Linked DNA regions of Homo sapiens: region 1 is linked to region 2. A link means that fine-mapping ties the variant in region 2 to the expression of a gene that starts in the linked region. Tissue or cell type: whole blood. Region 2 holds a variant in brackets; the other region holds the start of a gene. All regions are shown on one strand. Distances are between the middles of the regions. Region 1 holds the start of ACER2 (alkaline ceramidase 2). Region 2 overlaps ACER2 (alkaline ceramidase 2).

Evidence for each region. PIP is the estimated chance that this variant, and not a neighbour inherited with it, causes the effect.
Region 1: it holds the start of ACER2, and the variant in region 2 is fine-mapped to the expression of ACER2 in whole blood (TOPMed, PIP above 0.99).

Annotation. Positions count from the first base shown.
Region 1 is chr9:19,404,888-19,413,226 of GRCh38, forward strand. ACER2 (alkaline ceramidase 2) reads left to right here and starts at 4,122. Exons shown (of 6, transcript NM_001010887.3): 1 at 4,122-4,305. The coding sequence starts at 4,198. RefSeq lists enhancers at 3,092-3,949, 3,950-4,805, 4,218-4,367 and a silencer at 3,828-4,117.
Region 2 is chr9:19,450,617-19,458,955 of GRCh38, forward strand. ACER2 (alkaline ceramidase 2) reads left to right here. Exons shown (of 6, transcript NM_001010887.3): 6 at 1-1,889. The coding sequence ends at 20. Among named protein-coding and RNA genes, the nearest start is that of MAP1LC3BP1, 8.6 kb to the right of the region's middle. RefSeq lists enhancers at 1,150-1,369, 6,625-7,220, 6,815-7,109, 7,124-7,263. The variant A/G (reference allele first, on the strand shown) is at 4,542.

The sequences.
Region 1 (8,339 bases), 46 kb before region 2:
ATAAACATTGTTATACACTATGTAAAAATAGAAGGTGCTGTCATTCTGAATTCCTTGCAAGGGCTGTTCCTTCAAACTTGCTCCCTTGTGGATCTGTATCACTGAGTCATGTAGGCCAAAAGCATCGTAAGCCAAATAGTTGGAACTCAGTAGTTCTGTTCCTTGCTGTCACTGCATCCTTCCCTCAACAAACTTAGTTTAGAGTAGACATCAGAATTTTGTATTCAACCACTAGCAGTAGTTTCTAAGGCATCATGCAATTAATATAAATCAATTTTAAAATTTATAACCTCCTGATAGGCCCTCTTGTTAAATTACCAATGTTGTATTTATTTTAAAAATGTTGGCTGGATGCAATGGCTCACTCCTATAATCCTAGCACTTTGGGAGGCTCAAGGGATCACTTGAACCTGGGAGTTTGAGACCAGCCTGGGCAACATGATGAAACCTTGTCTCTACAAAACATACAACATTTAGCTGGGCATTGTGGTGCACCCTTGTGGTCCTAGCTACTCATGAGGCTGAGGTGGGAGGGTCGCTTGAGTCTGGGGTGGGGGGGTCAAGGTTGCAGTGAGCTGAAATTGCACCATTGCACACCAACCAGGGTAACAGAGGGTTACCCTGTCTCAAAAAAAAAAAAAAAAGTTAACAATGTTAACAATGGGGAGAGCTATGAAAACAAAATTTTAGAGACAGTGTGACTCAAGTACGGTTTCTGTGCAGTTGTAATTAGAAGGAACCAATGTGGCTGACTGATTTTGAACTACAATTGTCACTGACAATAAGAGTTACTGTGGAGGATGAAAAACTCCCATCATTCCCTTAGCAAGACTTGGAAAGAAGGATGAATTACATTCAGCAAATTTAATATTTCACTGGTGCTAAAACTCACATTGTTTTGCGTTGTTAAATCTCTGAAATCCTGATGCATTTTACCAAGAATGGCATTTTATGATTATGGTTGGCTAGGTCATGGTTGTGATGTGGTGTCACTGCCTGCATATGTACAGACTTGGTGGTTATTCCTGGTGGGATGACTTGGCAACTGTAATCTCCATGTTTCTCTCAACAGATTATATAAGGACCATCTGGAAAAGAAACATGCTGCCTGTTGTCTGGAAACCTTCCACTGACACCTTCAGGTAAGATCAGGAGAGTCCCAGCATCAAAATTTGTAAAACAGGTGTCAGTAGTTTGCAAGAAAACAGTAGTGGAATAGTTTTAAGAAATGCTGCATTATTAGCACATAGTAATTAAGGACACAGAGGACATTTCTATATGAATGACACAGACATCAATGACTATAAGCTGAAAAATGACTCAGAAGAACAGAGATTCTGAATGTAAAGAAATTACAGGAATTCTTTAATGAATTTATTTTTGCTTATACCTTCCTTCTTAGGTATGCACAAGAGATGTATGATAACAATGTAAGTCTAAGTCTGTGCTTGTTCACTAAAAATTCTAAATGATAAAAAAGTATTACAAATAGTTTAATTGGAAATATTTCTTTTTTTTTTTTTTTTTTTTGAGATGGAGTCTCGCTCTGTTGCCCAAGCTGGAGTGCAGCGGCGCGATCTTGGCTCACTGCAACCTCTGCCCCCTGGGTTCAAGCGATTCTTCTGCCTCAGCCTCCCGCATAGCTGGAGGTGCCCACCATCATGCCCTGCTAATTTTTGTATTTTAATAGAGACGGGGTTTTGCCAAGTTCACCAGGCTGGTCCCGAACTCCAGACCTCAGAAGAGCTGCCTGCTTTGGCCTCCCAAAGTGCTGGGATTACAGGCATGAGCCACTGCATCCGGCCAGGAACATCTTTTTAACAGCAACTTTCAATCTTTTTAGTCTGAGGACCCCTTTACACTCTTAAAAAATATTGAGAACACCAGAGAACTTGTGGTTTATATGGTAACATCAATAGTTACCGCATTAGAAATTTAAACAGACTTTTAATACCAAAGAATCACAAGCACATATTCCATTAGCTGTCGGAGAGATAATGACATCACACATCATGTATCCTCTGGGAAGTTCCAATGTACACTGGTAAGAGAATGAAAATGAAAAGAAAGGGAGGAACCACACTTTGAGAATCTCTGGCATATAAAATAATGGTTTTTTAAAAATACCATTATATTTTGATGAATATGGATATATTTCCAAGTAAACTGTTGTTGGAAGAAGTAAAATATTGACTACAGGGAAAATTCTATTGCTGAACAGTTGGTGTAGCATTTTGAGACACAGAAATTAACTGATGTATCTTTCTTCTGTGGCTGTGGGAAACATCCACCCCAACCGCCCTTCGTTTTTGAGATGGAATCTCGCTCTGTCACCCAGGCTGGAGTGCAGTGGCGCGATCTCGGCTCACTGCAAGCTCCGCTTCCCGGGTTCACGCAATTCTCCTGCCTCAGCCTCCTGCGTAGCTGGGACTACAGGCGCCCGCCACGACGCCCGGGTAATTTTTTGTATTCTTTTTTTAAGTAGAGACGGGGTTTCACCATGTTAGCCAGGATGGTCTCCATCTCCTGACCTCGTGATCCGCCTGCCTCGGCCTCCCAAAGTGCTGGGATTACAGGCATGAGCCACCGCGCCCGGCCCTCAACCGCCTTTCTTAGGTGGCCAGCTCACTCCGGGTATCCTGTAGGTCTGGGTAAATCAACCCTAGGGGAAGGTAAGAGTGTATCTTCTACTTGGGTTCTGGAGGGCAGTGGAATTGCCCGTAAAGCAGGAGGAAGGGATAGAGGTTGGGACAAAGATGAAAGGAGGAGTGTGGTTTGGCCCCTGGGGGACAAACCTGGATTTTCTAGAGACTAGGAGAGGCGGCGGGGCTTGCAGTTTTTGTCAGTGATGGAGATCTCTGGGGACTTGCACATGGCTGTGTGGGTACTGGTGGGCAGACAAACACTTGGTGCAGAGGACACTGAAGCACCACCCAGGGTCCTGCTGGGCAGTCAGGCCCAGAGAGAGGGCAGACCCTGGGGAGTTGCTGGCCTTTAGGATACCCTGCGGGTCCGAGCAAGACGTCCTAATGACAGTCACCAATGGGCTGCTGCCCAGGGCCTCTTCTGCCGCTGTCCTGACCTAGAATCCTACAACCTTTCAAGGAAGGAGAACGGGAGCCACCACATACACACAGAGGGTGGCTTTCCTCTAGGGATCCTGGGAACCAGATTGGCTTTCATTTACAAACCGCAGAACAGTTACAGAAGCAAAAGAAGGTAGTTATGACTGGATCTGAGGACATCTTGCCTGAATTGAATTTCCAGCTCTGTCACTTGCTAATAGAAGCCCCTCACAGGGTCTCTGCTGGGCACACTAAATGAGTGATACATGGAAACTCTTCAGACAGCACCTGGCATGTGTATGTTATCTATCACCTCTTGAACCTCGATATCTTGGAGATGTCATAACTGCCACACTACATCCTCTGCAGTTTGGGATGGCTGACGTTTGACCCTTTGCCTAAGTCCCCATATCGAAGGCTAGATTAAGCCTTAACGCTGGAGCCAAGGGGAGGGAGGGCAGGAACGTACTCTAAATAGAAGTGCTCCCCCGGGGACTGGGCGGCCCAACCTGCTCCAGCAGCCGGGAAGGTCTTCCTGCCACAGTGACCGCAGCGAGTGGCGTCCGGCCTCGGAGGGACTGAGGGCACTTCTCTGGTGTAAGCACTGGCGTCCAACGCCGGACGCAGCAAAATCGCTGCAAACTCTGGGTCCAGAGAGGTCCAGGTCCTCCCGGGTTTCTTTTTATTTTAAATTTTTTTCCAGGGAGAGTTCTGGCGCTCCTTCAATCGGGGGAGGCTGCGAGTCTGAGCCAGGAGATGGGCGTGGGCAGGCGTGGGTAGCACCATCGAGGCCCTGGCCACCTGCCGGGTGCTGGGTAGTCTGGAAGAGTCTGGAGCCCGGTCTCCGCCTCCAGGCGCCCCACCCTGGACCCCTCCTCCACGCGGGTCCCGCCCCACGGTGGGCGTGGCTTCCAGGGGGAGGGGCCGGGGAGGGTCTGCGAACGAGTAACCTCCCGCAGGCGAGGCGAGGCGGGGCGGAGCGCGGGAGGCCAGTTGGGAGGCGCACATCCGGCGGTTACCCGGTGCTTCATAAAGCCGCTTTCGCCGCTGGCTGTCGCCGCGTTTTGCCTCCGCAGCAGCTCTGGGCTCTTCTCAGCTGCGCGAGCAGCTGCTCCAATGCCCCGGAGTGGCCATGGGCGCCCCGCACTGGTGGGACCAGCTGCAGGCTGGTAGCTCGGAGGTGGACTGGTGCGAGGACAACTACACCATCGTGCCTGCTATCGCCGAGTTCTACAACACGGTGCGGGGCGCGGGAGCGGGGAAGGCAGGCGGGCCAGCGGGAGGGGGCTGTTCCCGCGCCGCAGCGTCTGGAAGCTGGACGTGGGTCTCTGCGCGCATCTGGGGGCATTCTCTCCAGGGGCTGAGTCAGTCCACACCCCCTCCTCGGCGCGCTCCTTTCAGTTCTCCATCTGTCCTCCTCTCCTGTCCCCATTCCCGACAGCTGGGCTCATCTTCCTCCTGCTGTCATTTGTTTTGTGATGGTCCTATTGTCTTGTTTGGCCCCCACGCGTCCAGGAACCAGGGGTCTGTGTCAGCCCATTCTCCTTGTTTGGGTCAGCTGGGGGCGGTGAACCTGCCGGGACAAGTCTCTTCCTCCCCTGGGATCTCTGTGGCGTGACGCACTTGGGTCGCATTGTGCTTTTTTGCCCTGAATACCTGCTCTCGGAGTGCTGGGAAGAGCACGCCCCCCGCAGGTCCCCGCGGCTGGGGTCACTCCCACCAGGCAGACTTGCCCCACCCCCAAGAACATGCCTATAATGGTCGAGTTATTTTTGGTCAGAATCAAGTTAATTACTACTTGTTTTTTTTTCTTGCCTTTAGTGTCCTGTCTTGTGCAAGCCGCTAATTCAACTCCCCCAGGACTGTGCTTTCTCCAGTTCTGAAGTCTGAGGGATGAAAGGAAAGTTTGGGAGTGATAATGTGCGGGTTTTGGATTTGCCTAGGTCCCTAGATAAGGGTGAGCAGAAACTTCCCCATTGCAGAATCCTGTGTGATTTTAGTTCTTGTGGTAGGGAAGGGTTGCAGCTGGGAGAGGAAATGCCTCTTATTTTGTGTATGTCCATGGCTCAGAATCCTGGTACAGAATGTGAGACTTTGCGTGGTCATTTCTGTGGCTTATCTTTTCACCGCCCAAACAAGGGAAACAGGAACTCCTGGTTTGGGTCATTGTGAATTTGAGGTTGTTGTTTAGGACTTTTCCTTTTGGATTTGCTAGAGAGAATGTCTTCAGCAGGAGTCAGGTGCTTACTGCCTGCAGGAATCTCAGATGATCTAGTCCCTGTCCTTTTATTCATCTGATGAGAAAACTGGGCTCTTGAGGAGGGAGCTGTCATGCTCACATTTCTGGCATGGCTGGGGCCACAATCCAGAAGTCTGGGCCCTTCCTTCCCTCAGTGCTGAAATCCATGGCTGGCTTCCACACAAACACTCCTGCTCCTTTTTTTATGATTAGGTTGGTTCCTTAAGAAAACCTAAGGCTGGGCGTTGTGGCTCACACCTGTATTCCTAGCACTTTGGGAGGCCAAGGCAGGTGGATCGCTTGAATCCAGGAGTTCGAGACCAACCTGGGCAACATGGCGAAACCTCATCTCTACAAAAAAATACAAAAATTAGCTGGACATGTGGCACACACTTGTCGTCCCAGCTACTTGGGAAGCTGAGGTGGGAGGATCACCTGAGCCTGGGAGTTGAAGGCTGCAATGAACTGAGATCGCGCCACTCCACTCCAGCCTGGGCAACAGGGTCTCAAAGAAAACCTGGCCCTCTGCTGACCACAGATACTGTGAAAGACAGTGGAAGTGGCCATGACTTATGTATTGCATAACCTCCCAGAGCATGCTGTCAGGGGTAAATAGTTGCACACAGAGGATGGGCTGGAGTAGTTCTGGGTACTTTCAATAAGGAGAAACACCAGTGGTAACACAAGCTGTCCTTTTGTAAATAAAGAATATAGTGAAAGAGTAAGGATTTCACCAGAGTTCAAGAAGAAAAGACAGCTTGATGACAGGTTCTCACACACTTAGCAAGATTATTCTCTGTGCAGCCTGGGGTCTACAGAGAGGGTCAACCTTGGTTATTTTGGCCAAAAAAGCTAGTGTATGGCTTCTCTGAGTCTGTCTTGAAAAGTGTCATAGGGCTGGATGAAAGGGAGAGTTTGTCTTTACTTTTAATCTAGTCCCATTGGAGCCGTTACTCTATGTAGTGAGTGCTAAAGTCTTTTTCAGAAACTAACTGTTGATCTTCAGCTGCATTGTCTGGCTGATGAGCCCAGCTGGCCCATCTGACAAACTTTATTCCTTGGAATACTCATAAACCACAAAATTTGCTCTGGCAAAGCAGAGAGCGTAAGGTGTCAGAGAATAAGGTCATTGCCTAACTTTGTTGAGTGTAGGTCCAAAGAATTTAGCAAAAAACGTTTCTTCCCCTCTGTTGCTATTTAAAAAAATTTTTTTTTGAGATGATCATGCTCTGTTCCAGGCTTGAGTGCTGTGGTGCGATCTTGGCTCACTGCGACCTCCACCTCCAGGTTCAAGCGATCCTCCCAAAGTGCTGGGATTACAGGCGTGAGTCACCATGCCCGGCCTTCTTCCCCTGTGTTCTTACGTACTACTTATATTTTGATGCTTATCACAGGACATTCCCATGCTTATCTTACTCCTGTGTTGAGAAAGACAGTAGACTGTTATGTGGTGATAAATATCGTCTTAAATCCTCATAATAAGGCAACAGGTCTAATTACCCAGTTTATAGGAAACTCATAATCATTACCAGTTTTGAGAAAAAGTTGGAGGAATTGACAATGTTAAATCAGGAGAAGACCGGGAGAGGGATCTAGAACCTTCTTAATGGGTCTTAGGGGTAGCACATCACTACTACACCTTCAGATACTACTGTCTACCATTACTTAATTGCTATGTGTTGAAGCTCTGCTGGGTACTGTATACTCATTCTAGACAATGGGTGCTATTTATTATATCCATTTGATAAAGATGGAAATTGGGGCCTAGAGAGTTTATGTAACTTGCTGTGGTCAAGAGCATAGCACAGCTGAAGTCAGAACTTGGTCCATTTGACTCTACCAAGAGAGTTATCTTGAAGCTATAAGTGCCACTGTAACTAACTTAGATTTATCTATTTGGCATAGAATAGATATTTATTATTTAGTCATTCCATAACTTAAAACTCCTGTCTTGGGATCATTTTATCTCTAGGATAAAACTCATACTTTTTGATAGGAAAAAAGTTTATTTAAAGTAGTTTGTAAAATTACTGTTTATTGTAAAAGTAATATGATCATGGTAAAAAATTTAGAGTATGTAAGTTGTAGAGTGAAAAATAACCTTCTGTATCTTTCTAGATATTTTCTAGGCATATAAAAAGCACATGTATCTGTGTGCATATAAAATACGCATGTATAAGGCTGGGGGCAGTGGCTCATGCCTGTAATCTCAGCACTTTGGGAGGCTGAGGCAGGCAGATCATTTGAGGTCAGGAGTTTGAGACCAACCTGGCCAACATGGTGAAACCTCATCTCTACTAAAAATACAAAAATTTAGCTGGTTGTGGTGGTGCGTGCCTGTAAGTCCCCGCTACTCAGGAGGCTGAGGCAGAAGAATAGCTTGAACCTGGGAGGTGAAGGTTGCAGTAAGCTGAGATCGCGCCACTGCACACTCTAGCCTGGGCAACAGAGCAAGATTCTGTCTCAAAAAAAAAAAAAAAAAAACCAGCATGTATGGCGTAATCACGAATACTTGAAGTTTTTTTCCAAGATGGTACTGTGTAAACTCTTATGTACCTTGTGTTTTTCACTTAATATGTCTTGGAGATATTTCCATATCAGCTCATATAGTGCTCTCTTCCTGTTTATAATGTTTATACAGTACTCCCTTTAATGGATTGATCATAATTTATTTATCTAATCAATCCTTATTGATGGACATTTCATATAGTTTCTCTCTGTTTTATTGTTTTCATTTTGGTTTTTGAACAGTGATTCAGTGAATATCCTCATTCATGCATCTGGATGTACTTTCGCAAGCACTAATCTTAGATGGGGATTGCTGTGTCAAGGAGGATATTCAGTTTAAATGCTGATAATTATTGTGAAATGGCACACTAAAGAGAGTGCACTGATTTGACTTCCACTGACAATGTTTGGGCATACAAAACATTTTGCTTTGGCCTCTGCAAATTTCTGTTGCCTCAAATTGTATCATCCTTTGCTTCAGCCAAGCCTAATATCTCTTCCATGAACATGTAATTTCCTTTCACAGC
Region 2 (8,339 bases):
CATCAGTCAAGATCACGTGATGGCAAGATGGTGGCTGGCTTCTCTGCTTATCGCCCCTCATGCAGTGGGCTTCCTTTGCTAGGAAGACAGCCAAGGGAGTTCGAATAGTTGGGGTGTGGGCTATCTTTTCAAAAATCTATTTGCTGGGGCTCTTAATTTCTTTAGTGTTCTTTGTATGTAGGGATTTAAACTTTGTCATATGGTACAAATATTCCCTGCCCCCCTGCAGTTTCCCATTTGTCTTTCAGTATGTTAATATTTTTGTGCCATACTGGTTTTAAACTTTCATGTTGTCACATCTGTTAATCTTTTCTTTAGGATTTCTGGATTTTGTGTAATTTTTAAAAAGGTCCCCTCCTCCTCCCTAATGTGTCTGTGGACCACCTGGATTCCACTGTACAAGGGGAAAAGTGTCTATTCCTTTCCCAAAGATGGAAAATGGAGGGCTTAGGGACACTAGATGCATCTTTCTCAGCATCACTTCCAGATGCAGTGACTTGTTGGGCTGCGTCCTTAATGGCCATGGCAGAGCAGTCCCTTGGGGGATCCAGCCCTGTACAATGCATCTCTTCCTGGAGAAAGCTGGCCTGCTCCAGACCCCACCATTCCCAGGCGCCCTTGGAGTGGACTCTACTGATGACAGACAGACCCTCTGAGAGACAAGACCCTCTGACTCTGTGATGGAAGATGCCAGAGATTTTCCTTTGGGGTAATTGTCCTTAAACAAAACCAAACAGATGAAACACACACAGGACTTGTGGCTAAAAAGGCTAGTTTTTCACTTGCATTTCTCAACTAACCCAGGTTTTACATGCATCTGTGAATCCTTTTACTACTACCTCTGTGGAGAGATGGAGAGACTTCAGATAAACGTGAAGCTAATGAGTAAAACCCTCTCTGCCAAAACCTACACTCCACTTTAGGCCCTTCTTGAAGATGAGCACAATTTTTAAATACTGAGCACAATTTTTAAATACTGACATCACTTCCTCTTCCCCCTCCCACCCCAGCTCAGCAGCCTCAAATCTACAGAGAAGAAGAATTATGGCATGAACATTCCCACAGACCCACCATCTTTAAGACTTGACCTCTGTAAGTTTACCAAAGGGCTCCTCACAATTGTGGTGGGGGTTCTGGTTCAAAATTTGGAGCAAACATGAAGTTTTTGGAAACGTTTTCTCATTTGAAGCCTCCAGTATGCTGTACTATTCTGGAAATTACCTTCAAGAGTCTCACTTCTTGTTTCTGTTGTGTTTTCTGTGGGCATCATGTTCTTCACGCTTGCAGTAGAAGGTGCTTTCTCGGTTTCCCAGAGTATCCAACGGCTCACCTTTCTCAAGTGCTGGCAGTAGCTATGCACTCACGGGCTGGTTTGGGTCGCTGGTGCAGCAGCGCAAATCTGTTGCCTTCTGAATTTTTCTCACCTAATGTGACACTGGCTACAATGAATCTTCTCTTCATCGGGCTGAATGAAAGATTCAAGAACCATCTTCAAGGTGCATGGTGGGAATTATCAACCTCAGGGATACTCATTTTAACTCAGGCGTGTCCTGCTTTGTAACATTCCATTGTTGGGAGAGGGCAGGACAGGTGTGTTCTTCTGTGGGCAGGAGTCATGTCACTGTCCTACATATGTAAGAGTTGGGAAGGTGACGATTTTTGACACATCCAGGAACTCTTACTCTAGTTAGAATTTGTACCAGATCCAAGGTGAAAACCCCAATAAGCAACTGAATTTAGAGTTTAAAAATGAATGACTTTATGCTACATCTGTGGTTATCAAATTATATAGGTTGTTGAGAAGCAGAACGCTGTTTGTAGTAAGAAATCTTTGTGGAACCCCAGTGTGTGAAGTAAATTGTATGTTATTAAATTTATTTAAGGTTAAATTTATGGCATTTACTTAATAATATATGAGGTGGTGAAAATGCAAATTAACAAATTGGTAATTTCCAAGGTAGAAAAATTAGGTGTTGAATGAATGTATATGTTGGTTTATTATAGTTTTATATATATATAGAGAGAGTGTTTTGTTTTTGAGTCAGGGTCTTGCTCTATTACCCAGGCTGGAGTGCAGTGGTGCAGTCATGACTCACTGTAGCCTCTGTCTCCCAGGCTCAAGTGATCCTCTCACCTCAGCCTCCCCAGGAGCTGGGAGTACTGGTGCGTGCCTCCACTCCCAGCTAATTTTTGTATTTTTTCATAGAGATGGGGTTTCACCATTTTGCCCAGGCTGGTCTCAAACTTCTGGGCTCAAGAGATTCGCCCGCCTCGGCCTCCCAAAGTGCTGGGAATAGGCATGAGCCGTCACGCCTGGCCTAAAAAATATTTTTAAAATGATCTTTGAATTAAATATTCGTAGAATTTCTAATGTATCTCTTTGAGACCTAGGAGGTTGATGGAACAGAACTGCTGTTAAGTCCTTTGGGTTTCAAGTCTAGAATTTTTTAAAGGCAAATATCAGCTCATTCTTATTTTAGATTGACCTTATCAGGCATGGATTCTGGTCTCATCTACTTTATGGTATAAATGCTCCAAGGTAGGGGGTTTGGTATATATTTTAAGCCCGGCTTTTTTTTTTTTTTTTTTTTTTTTTTTTTTAATGTGAGAAGCAGAATGTGCTTCTAGAAACTGGTTTTAAAGAGATGAGCTGAGAAAGAAATGTGGAATGGAGTATATTTGAGGAGGACAAAACATAACTTCACTTTTGAACAGAAATCACTCTAGCTTGCCAGCATGGGATGTAAACCAAGAGAGTAGAAATATACCCATCTTATTTTAAGTTGGGTTTATGGCATCGCTCATATATGTAAAAGCACTACAAACTCTTTAAAGAAAATTGGGAAACTACAGAGAAGTCAAAGAAAAAAAAAAGTAACCCATATTTCTATTGCCCAGGTATAATCCTTGTTAATATTTTGGTTTGGTCTCCTCTTTTTTCCCCCAATATAGTTGTAAATAAATGATGTCTTTCAGAGTTGACATTTATCCTGTAGCTTGAATGGCATGTAAATGCCAGTTGTATATTTTTTCATGAAGTGTAGGTTTGGAATACACTAGAGTTAGCTATATGCTTGAATGCTGATCACTGGATTCTGAGACTGACTACTGAGTCTACCTTTTTAATCAAGCCTAACATGAATGGGCTCCAAAAAGTAATGAATGTAATTGTACTTTTTGATGTGCCTCTGCACTTGGCTTGGTGAGTCATCATAAATAGCTGTTAAATATGTGACTTTACAGATTTTGATATGTTCAGATTGTAAAAAATGAATAGTTTATTTCATTAATTGATGGGCAGTCAAGAATCTCCCTCCCTTCAGTAGGGCTGACACTTAGGAGTTAGGTCATGGTTGTGGTTACTTGGCATGGCTAATCAGATTTTGTTCTGGTCAGAATTTGCCCAAGATCAATACCCAGCAGAAACTGGAGTTAGGCTATAAAAAACCATTCATGTTTCCGAGTGATCATTTCAGTCAGCGATTCATGTTTTACAGTGTTTAGTTGTTGATTATTAGAAAAAGTAATATTTTCTTCCCTTTATGATTACATCATTATAAATCAAGTCCTTCCATGAACACATTTAAGGTGTGTGGAGATGAGATCTCTGAATCCATTTGGGGATGGGCTGCATTTTTGGGGAACTCTATGCCTGTCCAGTGAAGAGTGCCTAAAACATTAATTATAGATCAAAGATGTTCTGTTGAGGGACAAAGCTTGATGGTCATCAAACACAAGGCTTTGTAAAAATACGACCACCTATTCCACTTACTGGATCTGTCAGGTGTGTAAAACTTCTCTCGCCAGTTCATCATGCTTCCATGAGCCCTCAGGACTGGGATTTGAGCCTTCCTGGCTCTTTATCCCTTGGGGCAGACATGGAACCATCTCTGAGGGACCAGGTGGATGCTGAAGCTCACCCAGTCAGGGCCCCTCTCCTAGCTCCTTTTACACTGAAATTAATCTGAAAGCTTTCATAGCCAAGGCTTTGCCTAGGTGCTATTATTCCAGCTGGCCAAAGAGAAGTCTTGGGCCAGATTGGGATTCTCAATGGATTTTATAGACATAATTCCCCTGCAAACTTAAAAAAATAAATAACCCCTACTTTATAGGACTAATTGTTTGAATTGTATCTTTCTCTGTATGTTAAACCAGATTTAAAACTATTTTATAACCACAATATGTAATCAGAGCAATATAGTGTTTTCAGATATATACCTTGTTTTATACCTTATGTAGGTGTCCTACATAAGGGTGGCATGCCCACTGGCTGTGGTAAAATTTAATCCTCATTGCTTTGGGAGTGACTTAAGGCCTTTTGAAGTGGAGCTTTTGCACTTTATACTTTTTCTGTGAACTATGATAACTATATTTGATATTAAAGCTGTAAGTGGCATTTTCAGCAAATGAATATGTACATGTTTGTGTCTATTTCCAAAATGATTTCTGAACTATCTGCAGTGAAAATGTATCTGATGGATTGTAGAGCAAAGCACATTGCCTAAATTCATTTGTTAATGAATTGGGTACCATTGTTATTA[A/G]AAATGCGTAAAGTAATTGTTGTTCCTTGTTGGTTTCTTCTCAGAGCTGTGAAATTAACACATGAAAATATTTCCAGCATAAAATACCTAAGAACAGTTTATTTTTACTAAAACTTCTATAGTCATGTCATATAGATATAAATCTCAAATATAGGCCTGGTGCGGTGGCTCGTGCCTGTAATCCCAGCACTTTGGGAGGGGAAGGTGGGTGGATCACCTGAGGTCAGGAGTTCGAGACCAACCTGGCCAACATGGCGAAACCCCGTCTCTACTAAAAAAAATACAAAAATCAGCTGGGCATGGTAACTCGCACCTGCAGTCCCAGCTAGTCAGGAGGCTGAGGCAGGAGAATCACTTTCACCTGGGAGGCGATGGTTGCAGTGAGTCAAGGTTGCACCAATGCCCTCCAGCCTGGGTGACAGAGCGAGACTCTGTCTCAAAAAAAAAAAAAAAACCCAAAAATCTCAAATATAGAATACAGTTCATTTATGCTGGATTTCATCAAATCACTAGAAGGAAGATCGTGACATTTTAAAATCATAAATTTAGCAGGAAAATTTTTACCTACTTCTTTTAATTTTCTGTGGCAGTTTTTTAAACTGAAAGGACTCACAGATCATCAGATTTAGAAGAATAGTCTGGGCACAGTGGCTCATGCCTGTAATCCTGGCACTTTGGGATGCTGAAGTGGGTGTATCGCTTGAGCTCAGGAGTTCAAAACCAGCCTGGGCAACATGGTAAAACCCTGTCTCTACCAAAATTACAAAAATTAGCCAGGTGTGGTGATACACACCTGTAGTCCCAGCTACGCAGGAGGCTGAGGTGGGAGGATTGCTTGAGCCTAGGAGGCAGAGGTTGCAGTGAGCAGAGATCGTGCCACTGTGCTCCAGCCTGGGCCAAACAGTGAGACCATTTATCAAAAAGAAAAAAAAAAAAGAAAAATCGTAAGAGAAGAAAGACTGGATAAGCATTATCTGTATCATTACAGTGGGTTTTTAGACTTTTTTTTTTTTTTCTGGCAGAGGTGAGGGGACAAGGAGTGGCCCCATAGTTGTTTGGCAATATAAAAGCTGTAGGAAAACGTCCATGTAGAGGTTGAGTATCTCTAATCCAAAAATAAAAAATCAGAAATTCTCCAAAACCTGAAACTTTTTGAGCACCTATATAAAAATCAAAGGGAATATTCCTTGGAGCATTTTAGACTTCTGATTTTTGGAATAGGGATGCTGTATAATGCAAATATTCCAAAGTCTGATATCTGAAATCCAAGCATTTCTGGTTCCAGGCACTTTGGATAAGGGACATTCAATCAGTATATAATTTTCTGGGGGTTCAGACATCTCTAGTAGCCCATCCAGGTAAACAGCCTCTGCCCAACAGGAGACTAAGCAAGCACTCAAATCCTTTTGGTGCTGAAATTGGTTACTCAGTCTTCGGGACTGAACTTTTTTGAGGCTGTGGTCAGGGACAGTGGCTGAGGAAGTTGAGAGCTCTGCTTTTGGGGCACTGGCACGGGTGTGTGTGCCTCTCTCCCCGACAGTCTGGATTATTTGTTTCTCCTCTTGGGTGACCTCTTTTTCTGAGTCTGGCTGGGAGTTGATGCAGCCACACCTGCTCCCTTTTCCAGATTGCCCTTTGAAGACCAGAGCTCAGGGGCTAGCCTCTCCCACTCTTTTCTTTAAAGGACTTTTCATTAAAAGACATTACATTGAAAGACTGTGTTAAAGAACTATACTACAAAGGGCTGGAGTGGGCAGACCCAGGGTTCTGGCAAGTGACATCTTAGGGCTCCTCAACAAACTGGGAACTTAGATTTTTTCCTTGCAGCCTCTTTCCTGGTTTACAGTTTCACAGTTCTTAAGATGGTGTTTGGGTTTGTCATACCGTTCTGTCTACTTTTGTATAGTTGGATTTTTTCATAATAAGAACTTAAAAGATACGGTATTTGAGATTTTGTTCTCCACTGTCTCCAGAGCCGGTTCTCAGCCTCCTTTCCGGCCCCGTTTTAAGAGGGCTGGCAGCCCCTCTCTCCCAGAACTTATCTTGTCTCAAGTGGCACTTCTGTCTCTAACTGTCTCCAGCCTGGCGACACCTAGTTTACCTGGGAAGTCTTCTCTTTGGGTGTTAACTCACAAAAAGGAAGAGATCACCCTCACCTGGGTTTTTATTTATTTTATGCTTCTCATTAAAACAAAACATTTGATTCAGCTGCTTTGGCAATTGAGAGCAGAGACCAAAGTGCTATTTTTAAGATGTAACAAATAACAGTAGTTTATTTTTATATTCGGGCTAGTGATAGGAAACTGGCTGAAGGTAAGGCCAGGAGCATGAAGTAATGGAAAACATACAGTGGCGCTGATGATATTTGGGAGAGAGGGTTTCCTGTGAACAAAGAAAGCCATTAGCTACTGGGTGGGAGGGACGGAGACGCTCCTGGAGTAATACTGCCATCTTGTGGGTTTTTGAGGCATTGCTATGTGGCGCAAGCGAAGCCCTTCCCAGTTCCTAATCATCCCAGAGATCACCAATTGTCTCAAAACGCCAAGTTATGTAATCTCTTTCTGGGCCCAGGTATGTTTCCCTGCATTTTTCCAAGCATCTCTCTCCCTTCCTTTTCCTCTCCTCTCTTCCCTTAGAAATTCAGTTTTCACCCCCCACCCCGGGTGTTTTAGAGGTTGCCCAATGTGAAAGCAAATACTGTTGTTGGCTCTCGGTATTCGTGGTTCCAGGACCCCCCAACCCCCATACCAAAATCCCAGAGGCTCCAGTCTCATACATAAAATAGCATTGTATTTACATATTACCTATGCACGTCTTGTGTGCTTTAAATCATCTCTGGATTACTTATAATACCTAATACAATGTATATGCTGTGTAAACAGTTGTTAAACTGCGTTGCTTTTTATTTGTATTATTATTTATTGTTGTGTTATGATTTTTTACTGTTTCTTTTTCCCTGAATATTTTCGATCCATGTTGAATAGGTGGATGTGGAACCTGAGGTTACAAAGGGGCTGTATTTAAAACCAATTTAAGGTAGATGTGATTTAAAGGAAGTTTTGTGTTTTTGTTTGTTTATTAGATATGGGGTCTTGCTGTGTTGCCCAGGCTGGAAGGTAGGGGCTATTTACAGGCTCCATAATGGCACACTACAGCATTGACCTCCTGGCCTCAAGCGATCCTCCTGCCTCAGCCTCCTTAGTAGCTGGGCCAAAAGGCACTAGCCACCGACCAGTCTGGAGGAAGTTTTTAATCCACTGGAGTGAAATTTAACTTTTGGGATTAATAGCTCAATTTACACAAGTCAAATGTCATTATAACTCAGATCTTTTTAAAGATGAATCTAATTTAAATCAACACTCAGCAAGTGTCTGTGTGGTATTACCTATTATGCTGCCTGCAGAGGGTTATGGGGACGGATGGAGCAGCTCAGATCTGGGGAGGGGAGAAGGCCACTGACTCTGCCAAATCCCCGTAGTGGAGAGGAATCAACAGTGCTAGGGAGGCAGGAAGGAGAGAGTGGTGAGTTTTCACCAGGGAGGAGCGAGAATTCTAAGCTTTAACTGATAAACCATGAGCCACATATAATACGGAATTTCAGTCCAGTGAAATAATTGGTCGACTCCCTAGGAATATTATTGGTAGACTCCCTAGGAATTTTCTTACAAGCAAACCTTATTTGACAGCCCATCACATAAGTTATCTTTCACATAAATGGTCTCATTTACTCCTCTCAGCTATTTTGCGAGGCTGGCATTACCATTATTCCTGTTTTGGGTACGACTGGAAATGTATTTT